Homo sapiens: one gene and its partners. The protein of the gene in region 1 interacts with the protein of each later gene in a pairwise test. Each region holds a gene or a part of one and is shown in the gene's direction. Other genes may lie near its edges.

Region 1 (3,500 bases):
GCCTTTTTGGCTTGGCTTGCTTTCTTGTTTTCACATTTCATTGTGCAAGAAGTGTTTCTTCTCTTGGGAGACTGTTTTTGTTCCTGTGGAATCATTACATGTGATTCTCTGAGTTCATGGTGGTAGCCTACCTCAACTGGGGAAGGGCCAGTCTCTTTTAAGACAGGAATGACTGTAAGATTTCTTTGCATATTCGTCTTTGCCTGTCCTCCTCACAACCTGCCAAGGGAGACTGTCTGATTGGGCAGCACTTAAACCAGCTCATTTCTTCTCTGTCACATGAAAACATTTTATTTTTCTGCCAGTTTGTTTTTGCAAAGATGAGGATGTCAGCCACCTTTGGAGGAAAATAGGCTTCTGGCAACATGGCTGGCCATCTGCATATCATAGGCTACATTGTTTAAGCACTGACTTAAAGAATAAAAAGTTTGTTTTTATAATGGAAATTTTCAAATATATGCAAACACCAGCATAATGCACTCCATGTATCCTTCATCCAGCTTCAACAGTCACAAATATCCTTTGATTCTTATTTCATCTTTCCCCCACAGATACTTAAAAAAATTTCTGAAGCAAAATTTATTGTAAATTAAAGGTGAATAACTTTCTCACTTCGATGGCTATTGATATAAGAATTAAAAATAGGCTGGGCATGGTGGCTCATACCTGTAATCTCAGCATTTTGGGAGGCTGAGGCAGGTGGATCACTTGAGGCCAGGAGTTCAAGACCAGCTTGGCCAACATGACGAAACCCCGTCTCAACTAAAAAAAAAAAAAAATATATATATATATATATATATATATATATATATATATGGCCAGGTGTGGTGGTTCATGCCTGTAATCCCAGCACTTTGGGAGACCGAGGTGGGTGGATCACCTGAGGTCAGGAGTTCGAGACCAGCCTGGCCAACATGGTGAAACTCCATCGCTACTAAAAATACAAAATATTAGCATGGACGTGGTAGCACGTGCCTGTAATCCTAGCTACTCAGGAGGCGGAGGCAGGAGAATCGGTTGAACCTGGGGAGTGGAGGTCGTAGTGAGCTGAGATCATACCATTGCACTCCAGCCTGTGGGCAGCAAGCCACCCAGGTGCCAAGGCAAGAGACTGAGGGCACAAGCTGTTCCAGTATAATAAAGAAAATATATAGAATAAGAATAATTATGCTAGAAATAGATTATAGATATGATTATATATTAATATTATTAATCATTAGTTTGTAGCATTACTCTTTATTCCAATATTATAATAATCTCTGTTCTACAATTATAACCTAGGAAAAACCAGGCCATACAGAGATAGGAGCTGAAGGGACACTGTGAGAAGTGACCAGAAGACAAGAGTGTGAGCACTCTGTCAAGCCGGGACAGGGCCACCAGAGGGCTCCTTGGTCTAGCGGTAATGCCAGTGCCTGGGAGGGCACCCCTTACTTAGCAGACCTTGGTCTAGCGGTAGCGCCAGTGCCTGGGAAGGCACCCGTTACTTAGCAGACCGGGAAAGGGAGTCTCCCTTTCCCCGGGGGAGTTAGAGAAGACTGCTCCACCACCTCTTGTGGAAGGCCTGACATCAGTCAGGCCCACCCGCAGCCATCCGGAGGCCTAACCATCTCCCTGTTGATGCTGTGCTTCAGTGGTCACGCTCCTGGTCCACTTTCATGTTCTGCCCTGTACACCTGGCTCTGCCTTCTAGAAGAAATAATGATGTAAGCTGTCCCCTCTCTCTCTCCGCCTCGGCTACCAAATAGGGAAGGGCCCCCTGTCTGGTGGACATGTGACTCGTGTGACCTTACCTATCATTGGAGATGACTCTCACTCCATACCCTGCCCCTTTGCCTTGTACATAATCAATAACAGCACGGCCAGGCATTCAGGGCCACTACCAGTCTCCGCATCTTGGTGGTAGTGGTTCCCTGGGCCCAGCTGTCTTTTCTTCTATCTCTTTGTCTTGTGTCTTTATTTCTACCATCTCTCGTCTCTGCACATGAGGAGAAAAACCCAGAGGCCCAGTAGGGCTGGACCCTACACCAGCCTGAGTGACAGAGCGAGACTCTGTCTCAAAAAAAACCCAAAAACATCAAAAATTAGCTGGGTATGGTGGTGTGCACCTGTAGTACCAGCTCCTGGGGAGGCTGAAGCATGAGAATCACTTGAACCCAGGAGGTGGAGGTTGCAGTGAGCCAAGATTGCACCACCACACTCCAGCCTGGGTGACACAGCGAGACTCTATCTCAAAAATAAATAAATACATAAAACATAGTATATTTTTTAATCTTTCTTATTCTGCTTCACCCATTCTCTGCCTGTGAAAATTTTCTGTGCTCTTCTGCAGAGAATGCCCATTACTGATCCACCCCCAAGTCTTGAGTTTAAGTTGTACCTTTCTGGATGTGACCTCAGGACCCTACGTCATCTGAGTAAAAATATTTTCTGAACAATTTTTTGTGAATGCATGCAGGCTGAAGATTTTACTTAGTCTGCAAAAGGTTTTGATAGTGGAGGGAATATTTCTCTTTGGTTTTCCCTTATTATCATGTGAGTTTAGTAGTTCACTTTTCAAACTGTTGTATTAAACAAATGCACAACCTATGAGACCTTTTAGGAAAAATGGCAAGCATCGTTACCAGGCCCTCTTTGGGACTTACATTCACTCTTGGAAGAGTTCTTCACATTTCCAGTGCTTTTTGGTTTTAAAGGCAAGCCTCCAAACCTTCCTTTCTCCTGGATGCTGTGGTGGTTGCCATGCATGGCATCCTCAACCACTGCATGGGAGCCTGCTGCTTTACTAGAGCCAGCTTGATGGTAGAGATCAGCTCTCTTTTCAAGGTTATGACATGCATGATGTCTTTTAACAAGCATCTCTTAAGGAATCTCAGCCTGTGGGACCTGTTGTAGTGCTTGAACTGCTCAGCCTGCCCCTTCTCTAATCTTGGGAGTCTTCCTCTCACTTATGGATTTCCATTTGTTACTTTTTTTATGTTTGCATCTTTATCCACCTCATTCATTTTTCTCTTAGTCTTTCTGCCCTAATTAACAGTCTTTGCAGTTTTCTGGTTTTCACACTGTTTATGGGAATGCCTCCTGGCCTTGCTTCCCTCCCGTCTCATAGAGTTTTCATGTCCCTTGCAGGGCTCTGTTGTGTGGTGATCTTAGGCAGCCATCTTGTGAGCATATTAGAAAATATCCATATATTCAGGGCAAATTAGAACCACTTGATTCTGTTTCTTCTTCAGCACAGATATTGTGTGTGTGTGTGTGTGTGTGTGTGTGTGTGTGTGTGTGATATCAGGGACTGACATTTGTATTTTCTTTTTGTGATAGGGGATGAGGCCAGAACTGAGAAGGAAGGATTAACTCCAAAGGATCATGTGTCCAAAGAAACAGAGTCCTTCAGACTGATGGTGGGGGGCCTGCCAGGGAATGTTTCCCAGCACCTTGACTTTGGGAGCAGCCTAGAGCAGCCACAAGGTCATTGGATAATTAAGACAAAGTCAAAGAGG
Region 2 (3,500 bases), on another chromosome or scaffold:
TCAAAAACGCTTTGAGATAAATGAACATAATTTAAAACTCTTGGCTGCGTGTGGTGGATCATGCCTGTAAACCCAGCACTTTGGGGAGCAGAGGCAGGCAGATCACTTGAGGTCAAGACCATCTTAGCCAACATGGCGAAACCCCGTCTCTACTAAAAATACAAAAATTAGCCAGGCGTGGTGGTGCATGCCTGTAATTCAAGCTACTCAGGAGGCTGAGGCACGAGAATCACTTGAACTTGGGAGGCAGAGATTGCAGTGAGCTGAGACAGCACCACTGCACTCCATCCTGGGTGACGGAGTGAGACTTTGTCTCAAACAAAACAAAACAAAAAAATAAAGTCTTAAAACATATATTTTCTACCATTTTACTCTCTGCCCTGCATTATGCATTGTGATGTGCCTGCTCAGGGTTAATAATGTTTAGCCATGGTTGGTGCAGAAAGACCCAGCCAGCATCTTGTTAGTGTTTTCTAGCTAAATAATGCCTTTAAATGCTGGCTTTTGTATTCTGACCTCTGACTTGAGGGCAGTAGTAGCATCTTAGAATATCAAGAATTTCACTTAGAACATCAAGATTCCTACAGTAATAAGAAAATCCATACCCCTAACAAGTCTATGCCTTCCTTACCCATACATTTTGACTGTTTCATTGTCATGCATAGGTATGTTTATAAAAATAGAGATAGAGGTGTCAGAGTTCTGACTCACCCAACTTCTTTATCTAAACCGTTATGTTTCATGTAAAATGAGCATGCTATTGTTAATTTGCATTTATTTTTTAAAAAACAGTTCTTTAAAAAAATTTTTCTTTCAAATGTTCCCAGTTCTTACTGTATTTAATTAGAAAAGCCTTTATTGTAAACAGAAAATAAAATTGAGTATGAGTGTTTTGAGTTGAGCCTTTCCCTCTTTTCTATTTTTTTTCTTTTACTGTTTGAGCTAATTTGAACAAAATTATGAACCTTACAACCAGGACTTTTCTCTTTTCTTTGCAGTGTGCGAATCTCCAGGGAGTCAAGATGCTCTGTTCTAATGCAGAAGGAGCATCCCTGAAACTGTGTAATTTTGAGGATCCTTCTGGTCTTAAAGCCAATTTAGAAGGTGAGATCCTTTCTGTAAATACCTATTCTACGAAGGAAGCAGACTGTAAAGGAAAAAAGCCCTGGAAAATAATTGTTAAGGGTGAAACAGGATAGCTGTAGGGGATAGGTTTCTTCTGTCATCATATTTGGAGAACTTCCAAAGTGGTAAGAAACCTCCATTTGGTTTCAGTCAAATGCTAATCAAAATTGAGGACTCAGAAAAAATAAAACCTCAAATATTTAATAAGGTTTTAGTTGGAAAATTAAATATCAACATCTTAAACTTTCAAATGGAATAAAATATTCTTACACTGACCAAAAGGAAAAATTTCATTTGCATAAAGCCAGGGAGTTTTTAAAAATCATTTTTAGATTTAATGTATTGTTTCTTAATTTGTTACTATCTGTGACTGATCACTTTGTTTACTTGTATATTTAGGAGACTACTTCACTCCCTTATCATAAACCTGTAGAGGCATATTATGAAAGTGCTAACTATCATAAGACAGAACTAAATTTCTTCCCTCAAAAGTATTGTGAAAGCATTCTTTCATCAGTAAACTGTTTATATATATAAGTTCGTTGAGAGACAAGATTTTAGATTAATTTCCAAAAGTTAAAAGAGGCCTCCATTAAGTCATCTTGCAGTTCTGTTGAAGGTAGATAACTATATTTTTAAGTTAAACTACTCCCAGAATGTGTTCACTGTAGGTGCTAATCTGAAAGGTGTGGATATGGAAGGAAGTCAGATGACAGGAATTAACCTGAGAGTGGCTACCTTAAAAAATGCAAAGTTGAAGAACTGTAACCTCAGAGGAGCAACTCTGGCAGGAACTGATTTAGAGGTGAGTTCACCAACACTTTAAGAATTTTTATTACTCTAGACTTACTAAGCATCTCATGCAAAATTTATTGAAATCAAAACAAAGTAGTTGGCTGGTAAAACTGGATTGGAAGACTCATCTGACATTCAGTCTAAGTTGATTTCATTTCTCTCCTTTTCCTTGAGTTTTTCTCAAGTAAATAAGTTTGATAGATGTGTTATCTAATGTATTGCATTTTCCATAAAATTTAATTCCGAATAGAATTAAATGGGCTAGATTACTTCTTAAACTACTTGAGAAATTTAAATGATATCCAGGTTTGAAATCAGGTTCAGGAAAAGTCTATTTGAAATTGGAACCATATGTTTTTTGGTTTTCAGCTTGAGATTATAATTTTGCCTGGTCATCTTTTTCAAAGAATTATATTTGTATGTCTTCTTAATTTGCCAGTTTAGCTAGCAGACTTGATAGCTGTTGATAGGTCTATATCAGCACTATCCAATAGCACTTTGTGCAGGAGGGACATGTTCTATATCTGTGCTGTTCAGTATAGTAGCTACCACCCATATATAGCTATTGAGCGCTTGAGATTTGGCTAGTGCAAATGAGAAATTGATTTTTAAATTTTATTTAATTTTAATTCATTTAAATTTAAGTAGCCACATGTGGCTGGTAGCTATGAAATCTGGTATAAATTGGATAGCAGAGAACGGTATGTCAAAATTTAGCTTGCTGTTAATGTTTTTTCATAATATTTTTGCCTAGATATCTTGATAGCTCTCGGTAGCAGAGTAGCAGGCCCCTTTCAACTTCAAGGCAAAAAGAATTGGCCTAAGTATAATCCTATCACGAGCACAATTATTTATTGTTTGTTACATTACTTTCACCTAAGATTATATTTTTTTCCTTGGTTTTAGTACTGTGTACTCAGTGTGGCCTAGCAGCAAAAGCCTCCCTCTCTCTGATTGCAAAGACTGATCAGGTTGACTATTGAGGGGAGAGCTGCTGACATTTGTTCTCCTAACAGGTTACGTTTAGTCACCCTTCTCTCTAACCATTGTCCCCTATCATATCCAGGGACTTAAGTGGAATCTCTATCTTATTGCTCCGTGATCTCAAGACAAATTAAGAAATAGCTTCAAATTGCGGTGGTTACACTGTTCTGTACATCTGTCAAACTCACTGTATTATATACGTACCTTTGGGGCTTTAAAAAGAAGGGCAGTTCCTTGCTATAAAAATACTAGGGCTAGGGAATGGAAAAATCTATTACACAATTTGATTAAGTAAAATCTTTTCAGATTAAAAAAAAAGTCTTCCCCCCATCTCATTCCTTTTGTTGTTGTTGTTCTTGGATCATAGTAAAATTGTTTTGATAATATTTATTACTTTGGGGCCAGGCGCAGTGGCTCATGCCTGTAACCCCAGCATTTTGGGAGGCCAAGGTGGGCGAATCACTTGAGGTTAGGAGTTTGAGACCAGCCTGGCCAACATGGTGAAACCCCGTCTCTACTAAAAATAGAAAAAATTAGCCAGGCGTGGTGGTGAGTGCCTGTAACCCCAGCTACTCTGGAAGCTGAGGCAGGAGAAT
Region 3 (2,565 bases), on another chromosome or scaffold:
CAAGACCCAGCATTCGGGATTGAAAGTGCCCGTGATGGGAGTTCAAGTATTGACTGAGCTGGGAGGGAAGGGGCTAGAGCCCCCAATCAGACATGGGCAACTAGAGTGTGGGGTGGGGGCTCCCAGTTTGTCCCAAACCCTCTAGGTCTTGTCTCGGGTCTGGGGGGATTCGGGGGGTTCAGCAGTGGCTCCTAAAGCAGCCACCGGTGCCTCCTCCATCTCCCTGTCCTCAGACAGTGTGGGCCCCGGGCAGAACGTGTCCCCTCGGCCCGCCCGGCCAAGCACAGCCATCCAGCGTCGCTGTAGTTCCTCTGTCTCAGGGCTGAAGTACCAGCTGAGGTGGCTCTGGGTGATCTTGAAGACATGCCTTCTGTCAGGCCGCTCCCCTGCCTCGGGCGGTCCCACCTCGAAGCCAATGAGGGGCAGGCTGCGCTGGGCTTTCACATCCTGGCGGGAGGAGGGACAGAGCTGGGGCCACCTTGGGGCTAGACCTTTCCCCCGCCCCAGCTTCTAACTGGTTTTGCATATGCTCTGTCTTCAGTCCCCTACTCAGGAACTCCCCTACTCAGGAACCTTCCGTGGCTCCAGTGTTATCAACAGGAACATGTCAGAACTGGGGCTAAAATGCAGGCTGGTTTAAATACCTGTCTCCCCCCACCCCCGCCTCTTCTCACAAAACTGCTGGGCTAGTCTCTTTAGCATACCAAATAATGTTTTCAGGCCTTTGTCTATGCTATTGCCCCTATCTGCATACTTTTTTTTTTTTTTTTTTTTGAGACAGAGTCTTGCCCTGTTGCCCAGGCTGGAGTGCAGTGGCATGAACTTGGCTCACTGCAACCTCTACCTCCCAGGTTCAAGCAATTCTCCTGCCTCAGCTTCCTGAGTAGCTGGGACTACAGGCACACGTCACCACGCCAGGCTAATTTTTGTATTTTTAGTAGAGACGGGGTTTCACCATGTTGGCCAGGCTGGTCTTGAACTCCTGATCTCAGGTGAGCCACCTGCCTCGGCCTCTCAGAGTGCTGGGATTACAGGCGTGAGCCACTGCGCTCGGTCCCATCTGCATACTCTTACCCACTCCAAATTGGACCTAGCAGTTCCCCATCTCTACTCCTTCCAGGAAGCCAGGCCCACAACTCATCCTGGTTTTCCCTACATACCACAACCACTCCTTGTCTCTAGCCAGTCTTTGTCTCTCAAGGGTTGGGGTTCTGATTTCCTCTTAGAGATAGGCTCACCTTATCTTCCAAGGCTCACCTTATCTTCCAAGGCCAAGGAGAGGTCAAGGACTGGATCTGGCTTTGCCAGGTGGCTGAAAGGACCCGAAGGAGTAGGATGCATACCTGAGGGGCTCCGTAGATATACAGCACCAAGGGTTCATTTTCAGGGACCACGAACCATGCCTTGTGCCATCCTTTGCCACCCTTCTCCATGTAGTGCAGGAAGCTGCAGATGACGCTGTTCTCTGCAGCCACTGAGGCCTGTTTCTGTGGCCAGAGACACCGGGCATCAATGTTGACAGAAGGCCTAGCCTGGCTCCTCCTAGCTTTAATACCTCCTCAGTGTAGGGACTGCTATTCCTATCTCAGATGAAGACGCTCAAGCTCAGGTGGCAGGAGTGATTTGTCCAGTGCCACCCAGTGAATCAGCTAGAGCTGAGATTCAAAGCTAGGTTCGTCTGCCTCATTTGGGCAACGGCTGCTGCCTCTACAGGCCAGTGGAAGGAGTGTGCGGATCTCAGGCATTCTTTCTTCAGTCAGAGCATTCATTCCTCAAGCCATTCACACATTTAGGCCTCATGCTTTTTTCTGTCTTTCATCACATCCATTTCCTACACTCATTGAGAGGTAATCTAGCATTGTGGTTTTAAGGGGGTATGTGGGTGGTTAATGAAGTCTGGCTTAGAATCCCAGCTCTAGATGAAAATGTATTGACTTGGAGAGCAAAGAGAGCTGATGTGAGAATTAAATGAATTAATATATGCAAAGTGCTTAGAATAGTTCCTGGCACAGAGTAAGTACTCTTTTAAGTGTTAAATAAATACCTAGATTTGTTTTTAAAAAAATCTCCAAAATGTGTGTTTGTGCATATATGCCTAGAAAGATAGGATAAGCCCTCACAATGGTAACTTTTGGGTAGAAGGGATACGGTATTTTATTATTTTTTGTTTATATTGGTCTACTTATCCTACTTTGTAATAACAAAAGACAATTTTTAAATTTTTTTTTTTTTTTTGAGACGGAGTTTTGCTGTTGTTGCCCAGGCTGGAGTACAATGGCGCGATCTTGGCTCACCGCAACCTCTGCTTCCCAGGTTCAAGCGATTTGCCTGCCTCAGCCCTCCCAAGTAGCTGGGATTGCAGGCGTGCGCCACCATGCCTGGCTAATTTTGTGTTTTTAGTAGAGATGGGGTTTCTCCACATTGGTCAGGCTGGTCCTGAACTCCCGACCTCCGGTGATTCACCCGCCTCAGCCTCCCAAAGTGCTGGGATTACAGGCATGAGCCACTGTGCCCAGCCAATTTTTTAATTTTAAAAAAATCCAGTGCTGCCACTCATTTGCTGTG
Region 4 (3,500 bases), on another chromosome or scaffold:
AGCCTGGCCAACATGGTGAAACTCCATCTTTACTAAAAATACAAAAATTAGCGGGGTGTGGTAGTGGGCACCTGTAATCCCAGCTACTAGGGAGGCTGAGGCAGGAGAATCTCTTCAACCCAGGAGGTGGAGGTTGTAGTGAGCCAAGATCATGCTATTGCACTCCAGCCTGGGCAACGAGAGCAAATCTCTGTCTCAAAAAAAAGTACAAAAAGTAGCCGGACATGGTGGCACACGCCTGTATTCGCAGCTACCTGGGCGGCTGAGGCAGGAGAATTGCTTGAACCCAGGAGGCAGAGGTTGCAGTGAGCCAAGATCGTGCCACTGACTCCAGCCTGGGTGACAGAGCTCAAAAAAAAATAAGATAAAACATAGATACAGAAAACCACAAAGGAAAAACAGCATATTGAATCATCACAAGGCAGCCACCCCTTCATAGCCACACCTGTCCCCTGGCCACCACTGACATGTGTTCCATCGCCAGAATTCCGTTGTCTCAGGAAGGTTCGATGAATGGAATCCTGTGTGGCCTGAGATGAGTGTCTTTCACACCGCGTGACACCCTTGAGGCCCGTGAAAGCTGTTGGCATGCCAACAGTTAGCTGCTTCTCATTGCTGAGTGGCGATTGGTCCTGTCATGGTTTATTCAGCCATGTGGTGGGGCTACTTGTCTTCTAAGCCACTTGCCTTCTGATCGCTGGACTGACTCTCTCGCCTTCTCTTGGTGCAGCCCTCGGGAGGCTCGGTCACACTCTCCGAGAGCACGGCCATCATCTCCTACGGTACCACAGGCCTGGTCACATGGGACGCCGCCCTCTACCTTGCAGAATGGGCCATCGAGAACCCGGCAGTCTTCACTAACAGGTGACCTCGGGGCGCAGGGCAGGGCACCGAGGCAGGCTTACCCTGGTGCAGTCGCAGACACGGTCCCCTTTCCTCCCGCCAGGACTGTCCTAGAGCTTGGCAGTGGTGCTGGCCTCACAGGCCTGGCCATCTGCAAGATGTGCCGCCCCCGGGCATACATCTTCAGCGACTGTCACAGCCGGGTCCTTGAGCAGCTCCGAGGGAATGTCCTTCTCAATGGCCTCTCATTAGAGGCAGACATCACTGCCAAGTTAGACAGCCCCAGGGTGACAGTGGCCCAGCTGGACTGGGACGTCGCGACGGTCCATCAGCTCTCTGCCTTCCAGCCAGATGTTGTCATTGCAGCAGGTAATGCCCAGCCCCGGGCACCCTGTGCAGGTGGTGTCCTTGCAGCTCTACCCAGCTCTTGGCTCTGGGAAAAGGGAACAATGGACGCTGTCGGGCATGGACATGATGGGGCTTCCAGAAGAGTTACTCTGGGCCTCCAGGGTGACATCACAGGACAGGGGTGCCTCTTAAGGTGACCTTCAACCCACAGCCCTCTTTTTGGAGACAGGCATACTCCCGTTCCAGTCGTTACCACATGGCTCTGTCCCAGAGCCATGCCCTGTGTCCTTCAGAGACCACAGGAGGAAAACAACCACTTCTGGGACGAAGACAGGGCCCTTGAGAGAAGGTGGTGTTTGGCTGGGCCACCGAAAACCCCTCACCCCTGCCAGCACACTCAGTCCCCTCTCTGGTGGAACAGAGCTCTGCCTGTGGTCCTAGGTCCCAGCCCTGAAACCCACAGGTCCAGCGGTGGCCAGGGACACAAGCCCACCCCTGCAAGCCAGCAGACAAATCAGCAGATGCCTGAAACATGAAGTTCATGGCAGGGTCAGGCTTTGTGTCATTCAAAGCCCTCTAGATAGGCCAAGAACCAGAGCTGGTTTTTTAAGGAACACCAGTGAGTCTGGAGATTTTTTTCTTTTGCTTCGGTCTTTTGCAGCTTTCTCTACTAAGGGTTCTCCTTTTTCACCCAAGTAATTGCCTTTCCATCTAATGGCCCAAATGGTCAAATGGCATCTACTAGTCTCATATGACCGCTGCCTCTCTGGCCTCGCCCTGCTGCTGACGTCAGCATGACCTGGACCTGTCCACTGGTCCCTTTCAGTAACCTGAAGCTTTCACCATAGATGTGCTGTATTGCCCAGAAGCCATCATGTCGCTGGTCGGGGTCCTGCGGAGGCTGGCTGCCTGCCGGGAGCACCAGCGGGCTCCTGAGGTCTACGTGGCCTTTACCGTCCGCAACCCAGAGACGTGCCAGCTGTTCACCACCGAGCTAGGTGAGCCTCCACGCCCACCCGGGCCTGCATGGTCCCTGAGCTGTCCCTGCAGGACGCCAGTGGAAGTGAAAGAACTGGGTGCCGGGGAAAAGCTAGGTTGCCCCACACTCCCACACCATGGGGGGAACTCAGGCAGAGGCCAGTGAGCAGGGTGGGCTTGGGGCGTGGGGGGCTTGCGGCAGGAGGAGGGCAGCTCAGCACAGGGAGGGAGGGTCTGAGCCCAGCAGCCCTACTGTGTGCTTCAGAGCAGGGTTCCCTAAGCCCTTGGGCCTCGGTTTCCTCATCTATAAAATGGAGGTGGCGGGAGGGGCAGTCGGGGTCAGGGCTGGACACAGCTGTGGCCTGCAGGACGCTGGAGCACAGGATGTACAGGCGGATCCACCACGCCACTGTCCTGAGCACCCAGTCGGTGGAAGACGAGCAGGGTGACTGTAGAGAAGGGGAACTGGCCCCATAGTGGGCCAGCAACTGTCCTCAGACCTGACATTTGTCAGCCCCCAGCAACTGTGAGGGTGTGCTGTCACTGTCCCATCTCACCAACAAAGACACTAGGACACACGGAGGCCAAGAGACCCCCGAGCTCCCGCAGACTGCACCCCAGCCACCTGGCTCTCACGCCTCCACACTACACCCAAGCCCCCCAGTGCCACCAGCCTTTGCCCCAGCTCCCCCTGAGCACAGCCCCTCCTGGCAGCCATGTGCACAGATGCACATGCAGCAGCCTCTGCCTGCACACAGAGACACAGACAACCCAGTGCCTGTCCACGTGGGGCAGCCCGTTAACTACAGAGCCAACAAACAAGCCAGCACACGAAGACGTACTGGGTTCCACGACAGAGTCCCCCCACAACCTCGCACAGGAGGCTGGCCGGGCGCAGGGCTCAGGCCTGTCATCCCAGCACTTTAGGAGGCTAAGGCAAGAGGACTACTTGACCCCAGGTGTTCAAGACCAACCTGGGCCACATAGTGGGACCCCATCTTCACAAAACATACAGAAGCTAGCCAGATGTGGTTGCACACGCCTGTAGTCCCAGCTACTCAGGAGGCTGAGGTGGGAGGATGGCTTGAGCCCAGGAGATGGAGGCTGCAGTGAGCCCTGATCTCACCACTGCACTCCAGCCTGGGCAACAGAGCAAGACCCTGTCTCAAAAAAGCAAAGAAATAAAAAATAAAAAAAAAAAAAGGAAGTCTTTCTTCAGATACTTACGTGAAAAAAAACCTGCAATATATTTTAAGTGAAAAAAACAGTGCCAAGCAGCACACATAGTATAAGCCCCCACCCACCTTTTTTTTTTTTTTTTTTTTTGAGAC
Region 5 (3,500 bases), on another chromosome or scaffold:
GATTATGGCCTCCAATTGTGTCCATATTATTGCCAAGGACATAATTTTATTTTTTTATGGCTGTGTAGAATTCTGTGTTATATATATATACCACATTTTCTTTATCCAATCTGCCACTGATGGGCACTTGAGTTATTTCCATGTATTTGCTATTGTGAATAGCACAGCAATGAGTGTATGAGGGCATGTGTCTTTTTGGCAGAATTTCTTTTCTTTTGGGTATATACCCAGTAATGGAATTGCTAGGTTAAATGGTAGCTCTGTTTTAAGTTCTTTGAGAAATATCCACACTGCTTTCCACAATGGCTGGAGTAATTAATATTCCCACCAACCGTGTATAAGCATTCTCTTTCCTCTATAGTCTTGCCAGCATGTTATTTTTTGACTTTTTAATAATAACCATTCTGACTGGTGTGAAATGGTATCTCATTGTGGTTTTGATTTGCATTTCTCCGATGATTAGTGATATTGAGCGTTTTTTCGTATGCTTATTGGCTGCTTGTATGTTCTTTTGAGAAGTGTGTATTTATGTCTTTTGCTCTTTTTTTAGTGGGGTTGTTTCATGCTTGTTTGATTATTTAAGGTCGTTACAGATTCTGCATATTAGTCCTTTGTTGAATGCATAGTTTGTGAATATTTTCTCTCATTCTGTGGATTGTCTTTTTACTCTGTTGCTAGTGCAGAAGCTTTCTGTGCAGAAGCTCTTTAGTCCCACTCGTCAATTTTTGTTTTCGTTGCCATTACTTTTGAGGACTTAGTCATAAATTCTTTCCCCAGGCCAATGTCCAGAATGGTGTTTCCTAGGTTTTCTTCTAGGATTCTTATAGTTTGAGGTCTTACTTTTAAATCTTTAATCCATCTTGAGTAAAGTTTTGTATATGGTTAATGTTAAGGGGCCAGTTTCTTTCTTCTGCTTATGGCTAGACAGGTATCCCAGCACCATTTATTGAATAGAGAATCCTTTCTCCATTGCTTATTTTTGTTGACTTTGTCAAAGTTCAGATGGCTGTAGATGTGTGGCTTTATTTCTGGGTTCTCTATTATGTTCCAGTGATCTATGTGTCTGTTTTTGTACCAGTACCATGATGTTTTGGTTACTGTAGCCTGTTGTACTTTTAAACTATTTTGGTAGTCTTGTATACATAAAGCAATGTTCATGGAACCTTTCTATTTTAACTAGTTTGATATATATTTTGTTCCTTGACATAGAACAGATAATATATGTTACACTTTATGTATTCTAAATATTTGACATGTAATTAAATTTAAGTGAATATTTTGCATGCTCATATTATTATTACTGTTGCCAAAGACTGTTTACACTTCTAATAAGAAAGAATGTTACATCAGCCAAACTAAATGGCCACAGTAGACATGTTATTTGATATCCTGCACTGAGTAGTGGGTTTTTAAAAAAATTTGTATGTAAGAAAATTATTATGCTATAGATTATTTCAAATCAAGTGTTATAAAATATTCCTAAGCCTTCTTAGAATAGCTATATACACTTTTCTAGAAAATTGGTGGAAATTATCTTTTGGTATAAACTTTGTATATGTTTATAGCATTAACTTACAACTCCTAGTCTAATGATTTATGTGTGATTTGCATGCAGTAAATTTTATTAAAGGAATGAATTAACTAGTTGCCTGTTAATGAGAATGATGTAACAAAAGACTAGGTGAAGTAATTAAATTTTCATGAAGCAGTATCTATGATCAGGCACATCCTTCCCTATATTGTTACATGCCATATTCATAGGCTTATTCAATTGTGTGTTTTGAGAATTTTGTATTAATAGGGCGTTAGATTGTAAGTGTCTTGAAGGGGGATCTTTTTTGTGGCACAGACGCTGATATGTTATAGGCAATTATTAAATGCTTATTGAGTGAATAAACATGGTTTGCTCCTTTGATTTGGGTTTTTTTAAATCTAGTGGTTGGTCTTGGGGGTTTTGTTTGTTTTGGCAGCAAAGGTCTGGCAGAAAATGTATGAGGAGGTATTATAGAACTCTTAGGATAGAAGACAAGAATACTTTTTTGTACATGCTGTTTTTTAGAAATATTCTTCAAAATGAATGGGAGTGTTTTAAAAAGGAAGTACTGAGGGGAGCTGACATATAACATGCAGGGTGGAAGGAAGTGTGTAAAAAATAGTCATAAGTTAGTGGGCACAAAAGAGCCTGTCACACCATGCTCCTTTCTCCAGGAGGATCTCTTCTCTCTACTTTGGATGAGAGAAAACCATGGGCTTACTCTAAAAAGTACTGTGTCCCTGCTTAATATAGTCAGAGGGAGGATGTCACTTATTTCATAGTTAAACTTGTCATTGCATCCTGTACACATATAAAAGTAGAAAATAAAATGAAGTATTGTCTTTTATACCTTGGGGGACTGTGACTCAGTGCTGGATTTTTAGTCAAGAACCGATGCGTACACTTTAATAATTTAATACAGAAATAACCCAGAGTAGTTTTTACGCTAATAAAAGGATATTTCTTGAAGCCTGCTGGGGATTTTTTTTTTTATCACCAAACCAGCTCAGTGTTTATTGATTAAGAGAGTTCTTTGTCAGTCTTTGAATTCTAATAGTTTTACACAAAAATAAATAAATTCTTACTAAAAATATGTTACAAGGCATCCATCCCTATATATTGTGAAATTGTACTTGACTGCAGTGGTAAACACATGTAAATAAAAAGGAAAATCCTCTGTACCTGTTAGAGCACTGGGAAAAGCATAGGTCAACAGTATGCATTTTAAGTCATGAAATAGTCTTAATTCAACAGAACAGTGATTTTTCTGGTAACAGTAATTTGACATTACTAGTGATTTGAAGTGAATTGAGCCACTGCAAGACACTCAATTTATGAAAAATTTCTCCTGCCCATGTAAAATTAACTATGCTTAATGGTTCTAAGATTATAATATTCATGTCTATGTTGAAATAATCCAATTTAAATATATCCTGTCGTTAAGACAAATACCTAGTTGACAGAAAAAAGAAGCAAACTAATCTTCTATCTGTTTTGTAGTGAGCTGATCCAGTTTATTACAACTGGTCCTATTATTGCCATGGAGATTTTAAGAGATGATGCTATATGTGAATGGAAAAGACTGCTGGGACCTGCAAACTCTGGAGTGGCACGCACAGATGCTTCTGAAAGCATTAGAGCCCTCTTTGGAACAGATGGCATAAGAAATGCAGCGCATGGCCCTGATTCTTTTGCTTCTGCGGCCAGAGTAAGGTGTTTTAAAAATATTTTAATGCTCTTCTAGTTCTGTTAAATGTTTTATATCAAAGGAAAGCATTTCTATCACTGGTGACTTAGGGTGGATTTATGCTGCTGCTCTAGTAGTAGAGAAAACCTTTGACATCTTGCCTACTATCAAACAGTGATTCAGTGTGTCTCCTTTGTGAACTGGTAACCTGATCATGATCAACGTAAGTTTTCTCCAATTAAAACACTTCTCATCCTGTTTCTTGTTCCCAAGACTTAA
Region 6 (3,500 bases), on another chromosome or scaffold:
CCGGGCAGTCCAGGAGAAGTGCATTTATGTCAGCTTGGGGAGGTCGCAAATCCGTGCTGTGTCCAAGCCCACCAGGAATGGATTCAGGTGTTTATGGGTGTGGGGATTCACCAGGTTTAACCCAGGCCCGTGTGAGCACCACTGGCCCTAGAATTAGCCTCACCTGGCGCCGGCCTTTTTGTGATGGCTCCTGATTAAATACCCACTAATTCTGGATCTGCTGGTGACCACAGAGTTCACCTGATGGGTCCCCTACAGGCAGCATTCAATCCAGGAAGTGCCAGCATCACATGGTGACTTCTGGTAGCTGTAACGTTTAGTGACTCTCTCCATGTCATGCAGAGGGGTGACATTGAGACCCTCTTATGCCTGGGAAGTTCCTGCTGTCAATGCAGAATATTCTTTAAAAAAAAATTAGAGATGGGATCTCACTGTGTTGCCCAGGCTGGTCTCAAACTCCTATCCTCAAGTGATTCTCCCACCTTGGCCTCCTAAAATGCTGGGATTACAGGCACGAGCCATTGTGCCCAGCCTAGAATATTCCTTTTTTTTTTTTTTGAGACGGAGTTTCACTCTTGTTGCCCAGGCTGGAGTGCAATGGCGCGATCTTGGCTCACTACAACCTCTGCCTCCCAGGTTCAAGCAATTCTCCTGCCTCAGCCTCCCGAGTAGCTGGGATTACAGGCATGCACCACCACGCCTGGCTAATTTTGTATTTTTAGTAGAGACAGGGTTTCTCCATGTTGAGGCTGGTCTCGAATTCCTGACCTCAGGTGATCCACTCGCCTCGGCCTCCCAAAATGCTGGGAGTACAGGCGTGAGCCACTGCGCCCAGCCTAGAATATTCTTGAATTAATTTATCTTATTTTTTATTTTTATTTTTTTGAGACAGAGTCTCACTGTGTCACCCAGGCTGGAGTGCAGTGGCATGATCTTGGCTCACTGCAACCTCCACCTCCCAGATTCAAGCGATTCTCGTGCCTTAGCCTCCCAAGTAGCTGGGACTACAGGTGTATGCCACCACGCCTGGCTAATTTTTGTATTTTTAATAGAAATGGGGTTTCACTATGTTGGCCAGGCTAGTCTCGAACTCCTGACCTCAAGTGAAGTCCCACCTCAGTCTCCCAAAGTGCTGGAATTACAGGCGTGAGCTTCTGCGCCCAGACTATTCTCGAACAATTTAACCTGTTTTGGACTCAAGGGTACCTGGGTGGCTCTGGTTCCCGCCCTGGTTTCCCTGGGAGTGCTTGTGGCCATTGGGATACTCCCAAGAAGGTGATCCAAGGAGCTGAGAAGGGGAGGGATCAGCTGCTCATGGGGCCATGGCCTGTTGCCTCCAGGAGGAGCTCGCAGCCCTCATCTCTGAGCTGAAGCAGGAGCAGAAAAAGGTGGATGAGCTCATCGCCAAACTGGTGAACAACCGGACCCGAATCGTCGTGAGTGCCCCTTCCCTCTGCCCCTGCCTGGGACCGGCCACCTTCACTTTCCTGTAGAACTCAGTTCTCATTGGTCCTTTACAGAAAACCATGCCTTCCATATAAAGCCAGAACTCAAAGCATTCCCAGGGCGGGGTGGGGAAAGCGCAAATCCTCTCAGGGGAATTCAACCCAGTTGTCGTTAGGACTGGCTCCAAGTTGGCTTTTGCCCTCTGTGTCCTTGAGACTGAGATAACCCAGGACTTGAGTCTCAGGGGGTAAACAGCTCAAAGCATGGGCATGACTCCTCCGCCCCTGTGCCACCTGTGTCTGCTTGACCTTGCCAGCCTGTCATGGTGCCCTCCCAGTACCTGGGTGCTCAGGCGTGGAGAGGCTGGCAGCCCTGGGCCCTGGCTGATCTCCCGAAGTGAGAGGCACATGGGGCTGGGAGCCATAGTGCCCCGGCCCTGGAGGTGGCTGTGAAACAGAAACAGGAGCCGGGCAAGATCCAGGAGCACTCAGCCTCCCTCATTTACCCTCCTCACCCTTGCGCGGCAGGCGGTACCAGCCCTGCCTGGTGGAGGCGGAGCTCAGGGTTCTGCAGGGAGTTCTGGCTCCCTCACAGCAAAGCCTGCTCGCCTAGGGCCTTCCTGCTTTCCTTCAGTTGTGGAACTCTGGGATATGCACATTTAATAGCTGAAATAGGCAAAGTGGGGTGTGGTGGCGTGCATCTGTAATCCCAGCAACTCGGGAGGCTGAGGCGGGAGGATTGCTTGAGGCTGGGAGGTCAAGGCTACAGTGAGCTATGATCATGCCACTGTGCTCCAGCCTGGGCAACAGAGTGAGACCCTGTCTCTTAAAAAAAAAAATTAAAACAGGCCAAAACAGAGCCTCTCCATTTGAAACGGGAGCTGGGGTCACCCTCCCCACGGCCACCGCCAGGGCTCCCCATGCATGGGGTGAACTCCCTGCCCGGCGCCAGGCCATGCAGCCTCCCCTGAGACTCAGGTCCCAGGACCAACCCGGTCAGGAAGGCCCTGGGGACACCGAGGCCAGCCAGACAGAGCCTGGCAGCTCGGCTGTGACTCTGCAGTGACCAGCCCTCCCTGTCCCAGAATGAGTCGGATGTCTTCAGCTGGGTGATCCGCCGCGAGTTCCAGGAGCTGCACCACCTGGTGGATGAGGAGAAGGCCCGCTGCCTGGAGGGGATAGGGGGTCACACCCGTGGCCTGGTGGCCTCCCTGGACATGCAGCTGGAGCAGGCCCAGGGAACCCGGGAGCGGCTGGCCCAAGCCGAGTGTGTGCTGGAACAGTTCGGCAATGAGGACCACCACAAGTTCATCCGGGTGAGTGGACAGGGAGGCGTCCCATCCCCATACCCGCCAGGGCCTTCCCCTTCCCAACAGTGCCCTAGCTTCCCACCTTCTAGCCTTAACCTCCCTCTCTCTTGCCTTCCAGAAGTTCCACTCCATGGCCTCCAGGTAATAACCTTGGAGAGAGCTCAGCCAGGGTCTGGTGGCTGCGGGCACGGGCATCTCAGCTCCACTGGTTCCTCCATTCGGTTTAACCAGCGCCTCCCAAGCAGCTGCCCACAGCTGGCTCTATAACTGAGCCTGGGAAAAACAGAGGAAAGTCATGTCCCTGCCTTCAAGGGTCTCGTAGATGGGTGGGGAGGCAGATGGTGAACTGTGGGTACCTAGAACAGCAGAAGTTCACTCAAGCTACAGAAATACTAGAGGAGGGTAGCTCATGCCTGCAATCCCAGTACTTTGGGAAGCCAAGGCAGGAGGATTGCTTGAGGCCAGGAGTTCGAGACCAGCCTGGCCAATGTAGTAAGACCCCATCTCTACAAAAAATACAAAAATAAAAAAATTAGTTGGGCATGGTGTCATGTGCCTATAGTCCCCGCTACTCATGAGGCTGAGGCGGGAGGATTGCTTGAGCCCAGAAGTTTGATGCTGCAGTGAGTCGTGACCATGCTACTGCATGATCCAGCCTGGGTGACGGAGCGAGACCCTGTCTCAGAAAACAAAACAGAATGCTAGAGGAGGAGCAGGTGTCTGGGGGACCTGGCAGAGGGGCACA
Region 7 (3,500 bases), on another chromosome or scaffold:
AGAGTACCCTCCCTGCCCTGGGTGAGAACCACTGGGCTCTACAGACTGCCCAAGATAAAGCAGGAAGTGAAAACCAAGGTGCAAACCAGGACTCAAGTGTGACTGTGTTTAGAAGAGGGACTTCTGTGAGGGAGCTGAGTGCAGGCGAGGCTCCTGGCGCACTCCCTCCCTGCCACGCTACTTCTAACAGGGTTAGGACGTGTTCCACTCACAGGGAGGGCCTGGTGAGAGACACTGAGGGACGCCCGTGCTTTGTGGCCATTAGGAAATGATTCTGCTGCCTGGGCATGGTGGCTCACGCCTGTGATCCCAGCACTTTGGGAGGCCGAGGCAGGTGGATCACTTGAGCCCAGGAGTTCAAGACCAACTTGGCCAACATGGCGAAACCCCATCTCTACAAACAATACAAAAATTAGCCAGGCATGGTGATGTGTACCTGTAGTCCCCGCTACCTGGAGGGCTGAGTGAGTTGGGAGGATCACCTAAGCCTGGGAGGTTGAGGCTGCAGTGAGCCGTGATCATGCCACTGCACCGCAGCCTGGGCAATAGAGTGAGACCCTGTCTCAGAACACAAACGAAAAAGAGACTGTCAGGGCTGGGCCTAGTGGTATGCACCTGTGGTCCAACCTACTCAGGAGGCTGAGGTGGGAGGATCACTTGAGCCCAGGAGGTCAAGGCTGCAGTGAGCCATGATTGCGCCGCTGCACTCCCGCCTGGGCACAGAGTGAGACCACCCCCCATCTCGAAAAAGAAAATGCTCCTGTCAGAAGGAGAGCTGCCTCTCTGAGCAGATAGGCACATTCTATTCAACCGGAGAAAATTAGCATCTCCCAGGCCGGGCGCAGTGGTTCATGCCTGTTATCCCAGCACTTTTGAGAGGTCGAGGTGGGCGGATCACCTGAGGTCAGGAGTTCAAGACCAGCCTGGCCAACATGGCGAAACCCCGTCTCTACTAAAAACACAAAAAGTAGCCAGGTGGTGGCACACACCTGTAATCCCAGCTACTCAAGAGGCTGAGGTGGGAGAATCGCTTGAACCTGGGAGGCAGAGGTTGCAGTAAGCCGAGATCGCGCCACTGCACTCCAGCCTGGGTGACAGAGTGAGATTCCTTCTCAAAAAGTAGAATCTCCCTTGTGGTCTCAGTTGGGTCAAACAGTTATTGAAGAGACCCACAAAATGTTACCACCGTCCTCTCTGAGTGATGGGTGTGTTCATTTTGTTTGAGCTTGTCTGGGGGTTTGATTTTTCACCTTGAGTATCTGGTGTTTTTGTAAGACTCTTGGGTGAGGGACTGGGGCGGGGGCATTTGGGAAATCCTTGCTGAAGGTAAATAGAGACTGACCTGCCCTCTGTCTCCTCCCGTCCCTGCCCGCCTGCCAGTTGAACAAGGCCTTCCAGGCCGAGGAGTCGCCGGGCGTCATCTACTGCATCAGCATGCAGTGGTTCCGGGAGTGGGAGGCGTTCGTCAAGGGGAAGGACAACGGTGAGCTGAGGGGGGACCTGGCACTTACCTGCCCTGGGGGCCTCCTGGGAGATGGGATGCTGGCAGGGGAGGGCTGGCACACAGGGGCTCCTGCAGGCCCCATGCCTGCCCCCAGGTGCCACCCATCCAGGGTGAACAGAGAGCATGGGGCTTTGCCAGTCCCCAGTGGGGATCACTGTCCCCACCCAGAGGCAGGAAGCTGCTCCTGCTCTGCGCCCCCTGCCCTTCTCCACTCCCTGCCATGCCCAGCAAGCTGCTCTGCCCTCCTGCAAGGCCCTTTCCTCAGGGGAGTGTGTCGCCCGAAATGACAGATTTGTCATCTGACTCCTTGGATTTACAGAGGTGGAGACAGGCCCCATCACAAGCTCCCAGGGTCCCCCAAGTCCCCAGTGAAGAACAGCAGAACCAAGCCATGGAAGCCCACAGGCTCTAAACTATTAAACCTGCATTAAAAATTTCGGCTGGGGCGCCCTCGGGGCATAATCTAACCTGTGGCTCCGGGGCCCGGCAGGGTGGGTAGAGCCCACGGTTCTGCTCACGGGACCCTTGGTGTGGAGCATGAGCACCCACCTGTGCTTGGGAAGGGAGGCCTCATTGCCATCCCGCTAGTCGGGGAAGGTGCCAGGGCCACCGTGAGGCCTCTCTGGTGGTGGCTGAGGCCTTCAGCATGGCTGTGGTTGAGAATGTAGCTCCGGAGCCCTCGCCCTGGCCTGGACGCTGGCCTTGCCTTCTACCAGCTATGACCTGAGTGGTTACTTCACCTTCCCAGGCCTCGGCTCTGTCTCTGTAAACCTCTGTCTTGTCCTGTGGTTGCCGAGGCTAAATGAGATAGCTGGGCAGAGGGGAAGGGGCGTGGTGAGCGGCAGCTGCCAGCAGAGATAAGGGCATGGGCCATCCACCGCAGCTCCTGCGGCCAGCACAGAGTCTGAGACCATCTCGTGTGTCCTGGAAATTCCCTCTGCTGGGTCCTCAGACTGCCACAGAGGAGCATTGGGTGGCTCAGGCGCCTCATCCATTAGAGACTTCACGCTGACCCCCAGGCCTGGGGCGGCCCCACTTGGGATGGCTCTGCTGCTGTGGAGGGTGGAGGGCATGGCAGGGGCTGAACCCGAGCCCGCTGTGTCTGTTGCAGAGCCCCCCGGGCCCATTGACAACAGCAGGATTGCACAGGTCAAAGGAAGCGGCCATGTCCAGCTGAAGCAGGGTGAGTTCCCCCTGGGGTCAGCCAGGCTCCTCTCTGCCCTTCCTGGCTGCCAGGCTGCTGCCCAGTCCCGTCCTTCCAGGAGCCCCCTTACCACCTGTCTTAGAGTCAGGCTGAGACGTCCACCTGAGTCCAGACCCAGGCGGCTGAGAGATGGCCCAAGGGGCTTGGTCTCTGCTTGTGTCCTCCAGGTCCCACCCCTCTGCCTGCTGCTGGCCTTGCCCACCCTGCTGTTTATGTCAGCCCCACCCCCAGGAACAAGGGACACAGCCAGAGATGTGTTATCCGGGGCCCTTAGCGGGATGGACATTCCTCTGGGAAATCCTGATTTCCATCTGACAGCTTTGCATAGAAGCCCTGGTTGCCGTCTTCCCGCTTCGGGGCCTGGCCCTGCGGAGCCCCCACTGCCCAGGCCGGTGGCTTCCTTGAGGAGGCAAAGGTGAGCCTAGGGGTGCCTCTCGTGCCCTGCAGGAGCTGACTACGGGCAGATTTCGGAGGAGACCTGGACCTACCTGAACAGCCTGTATGGAGGTGGCCCCGAGATTGCCATCCGCCAGAGTGTGGCGCAGCCGCTGGGCCCAGAGAACCTGCACGGGGAGCAGAAGATCGAAGCCGAGACGCGGGCCGTGTGATCTGCTGGGCTAGTCTGTAAGTCGCCCCGGCTGGTCCCTCCATGGCACTCTGGGTCCTCTCCTCACTCTCCAGAGACCCTCACATGTCCTTTTGAACATCCAAAGAGCAGGTCCCTGAAAGCACCTTCCTGGAGGATGTGGGAGGGCCCTGGACATGGCCCGGCCCCACTGCTGAGTGCCCGTG

What was found.
Region 2: the proteins of ZNF620 (region 1) and KCTD9 interact in binary tests that used the Homo sapiens proteins (3 or more experiments, as listed by UniProt).
Region 3: the proteins of ZNF620 (region 1) and TSR2 interact in binary tests that used the Homo sapiens proteins (3 or more experiments, as listed by UniProt).
Region 4: the proteins of ZNF620 (region 1) and EEF2KMT interact in binary tests that used the Homo sapiens proteins (3 or more experiments, as listed by UniProt).
Region 5: the proteins of ZNF620 (region 1) and NME7 interact in binary tests that used the Homo sapiens proteins (3 or more experiments, as listed by UniProt).
Region 6: the proteins of ZNF620 (region 1) and TRIM50 interact in binary tests that used the Homo sapiens proteins (3 or more experiments, as listed by UniProt).
Region 7: the proteins of ZNF620 (region 1) and USP20 interact in binary tests that used the Homo sapiens proteins (3 or more experiments, as listed by UniProt).

Annotation. Positions count from the first base shown.
Region 1 is NC_000003.12:40,512,539-40,516,038, forward strand, and holds part of ZNF620 (zinc finger protein 620), read left to right. Parts: intron 1-3,321; coding exon 3,322-3,500. UniProt on the Homo sapiens protein: May be involved in transcriptional regulation.
Region 2 is NC_000008.11:25,430,934-25,434,433, reverse strand, and holds part of KCTD9 (BTB/POZ domain-containing protein KCTD9), read left to right. Parts: intron 1-998; coding exon 999-1,104; intron 1,105-1,780; coding exon of another isoform or gene 1,781-1,796; coding exon 1,797-1,930; intron 1,931-3,500. UniProt on the Homo sapiens protein: Substrate-specific adapter of a BCR (BTB-CUL3-RBX1) E3 ubiquitin-protein ligase complex, which mediates the ubiquitination of target proteins, leading to their degradation by the proteasome.
Region 3 is NC_000023.11:54,445,968-54,448,532, forward strand, and holds the end of TSR2 (pre-rRNA-processing protein TSR2 homolog), read left to right. Parts: 3' UTR 1-141; coding exon of another isoform or gene 142-447; 3' UTR 448-1,343; coding exon of another isoform or gene 1,344-1,487; 3' UTR 1,488-2,065; downstream 2,066-2,565. Other genes in the region: FGD1 (FYVE, RhoGEF and PH domain-containing protein 1), read right to left, coding at 142-447, 1,344-1,487. UniProt on the Homo sapiens protein: May be involved in 20S pre-rRNA processing.
Region 4 is NC_000016.10:5,087,796-5,091,295, reverse strand, and holds part of EEF2KMT (protein-lysine N-methyltransferase EEF2KMT), read left to right. Parts: intron 1-730; coding exon 731-864; intron 865-946; coding exon 947-1,212; intron 1,213-2,039; coding exon 2,040-2,189; intron 2,190-3,500. UniProt on the Homo sapiens protein: Catalyzes the trimethylation of eukaryotic elongation factor 2 (EEF2) on 'Lys-525'.
Region 5 is NC_000001.11:169,298,298-169,301,797, reverse strand, and holds part of NME7 (nucleoside diphosphate kinase homolog 7), read left to right. Parts: intron 1-3,034; coding exon 3,035-3,242; intron 3,243-3,500. UniProt on the Homo sapiens protein: Possesses an intrinsic kinase activity. Displays 3'-5' exonuclease activity with a preference for single-stranded DNA. Does not seem to have nucleoside diphosphate kinase activity.
Region 6 is NC_000007.14:73,318,083-73,321,582, reverse strand, and holds part of TRIM50 (E3 ubiquitin-protein ligase TRIM50), read left to right. Parts: intron 1-1,340; coding exon 1,341-1,436; intron 1,437-2,508; exon of another isoform or gene 2,509-2,530; coding exon 2,531-2,761; intron 2,762-2,873; coding exon 2,874-2,896; intron 2,897-3,500. UniProt on the Homo sapiens protein: E3 ubiquitin-protein ligase that ubiquitinates Beclin-1/BECN1 in a 'Lys-63'-dependent manner enhancing its binding to ULK1. In turn, promotes starvation-induced autophagy activation.
Region 7 is NC_000009.12:129,876,958-129,880,457, forward strand, and holds part of USP20 (ubiquitin carboxyl-terminal hydrolase 20), read left to right. Parts: intron 1-1,380; coding exon 1,381-1,483; intron 1,484-2,615; coding exon 2,616-2,687; intron 2,688-3,155; coding exon 3,156-3,316; 3' UTR 3,317-3,332; exon of another isoform or gene 3,333-3,500.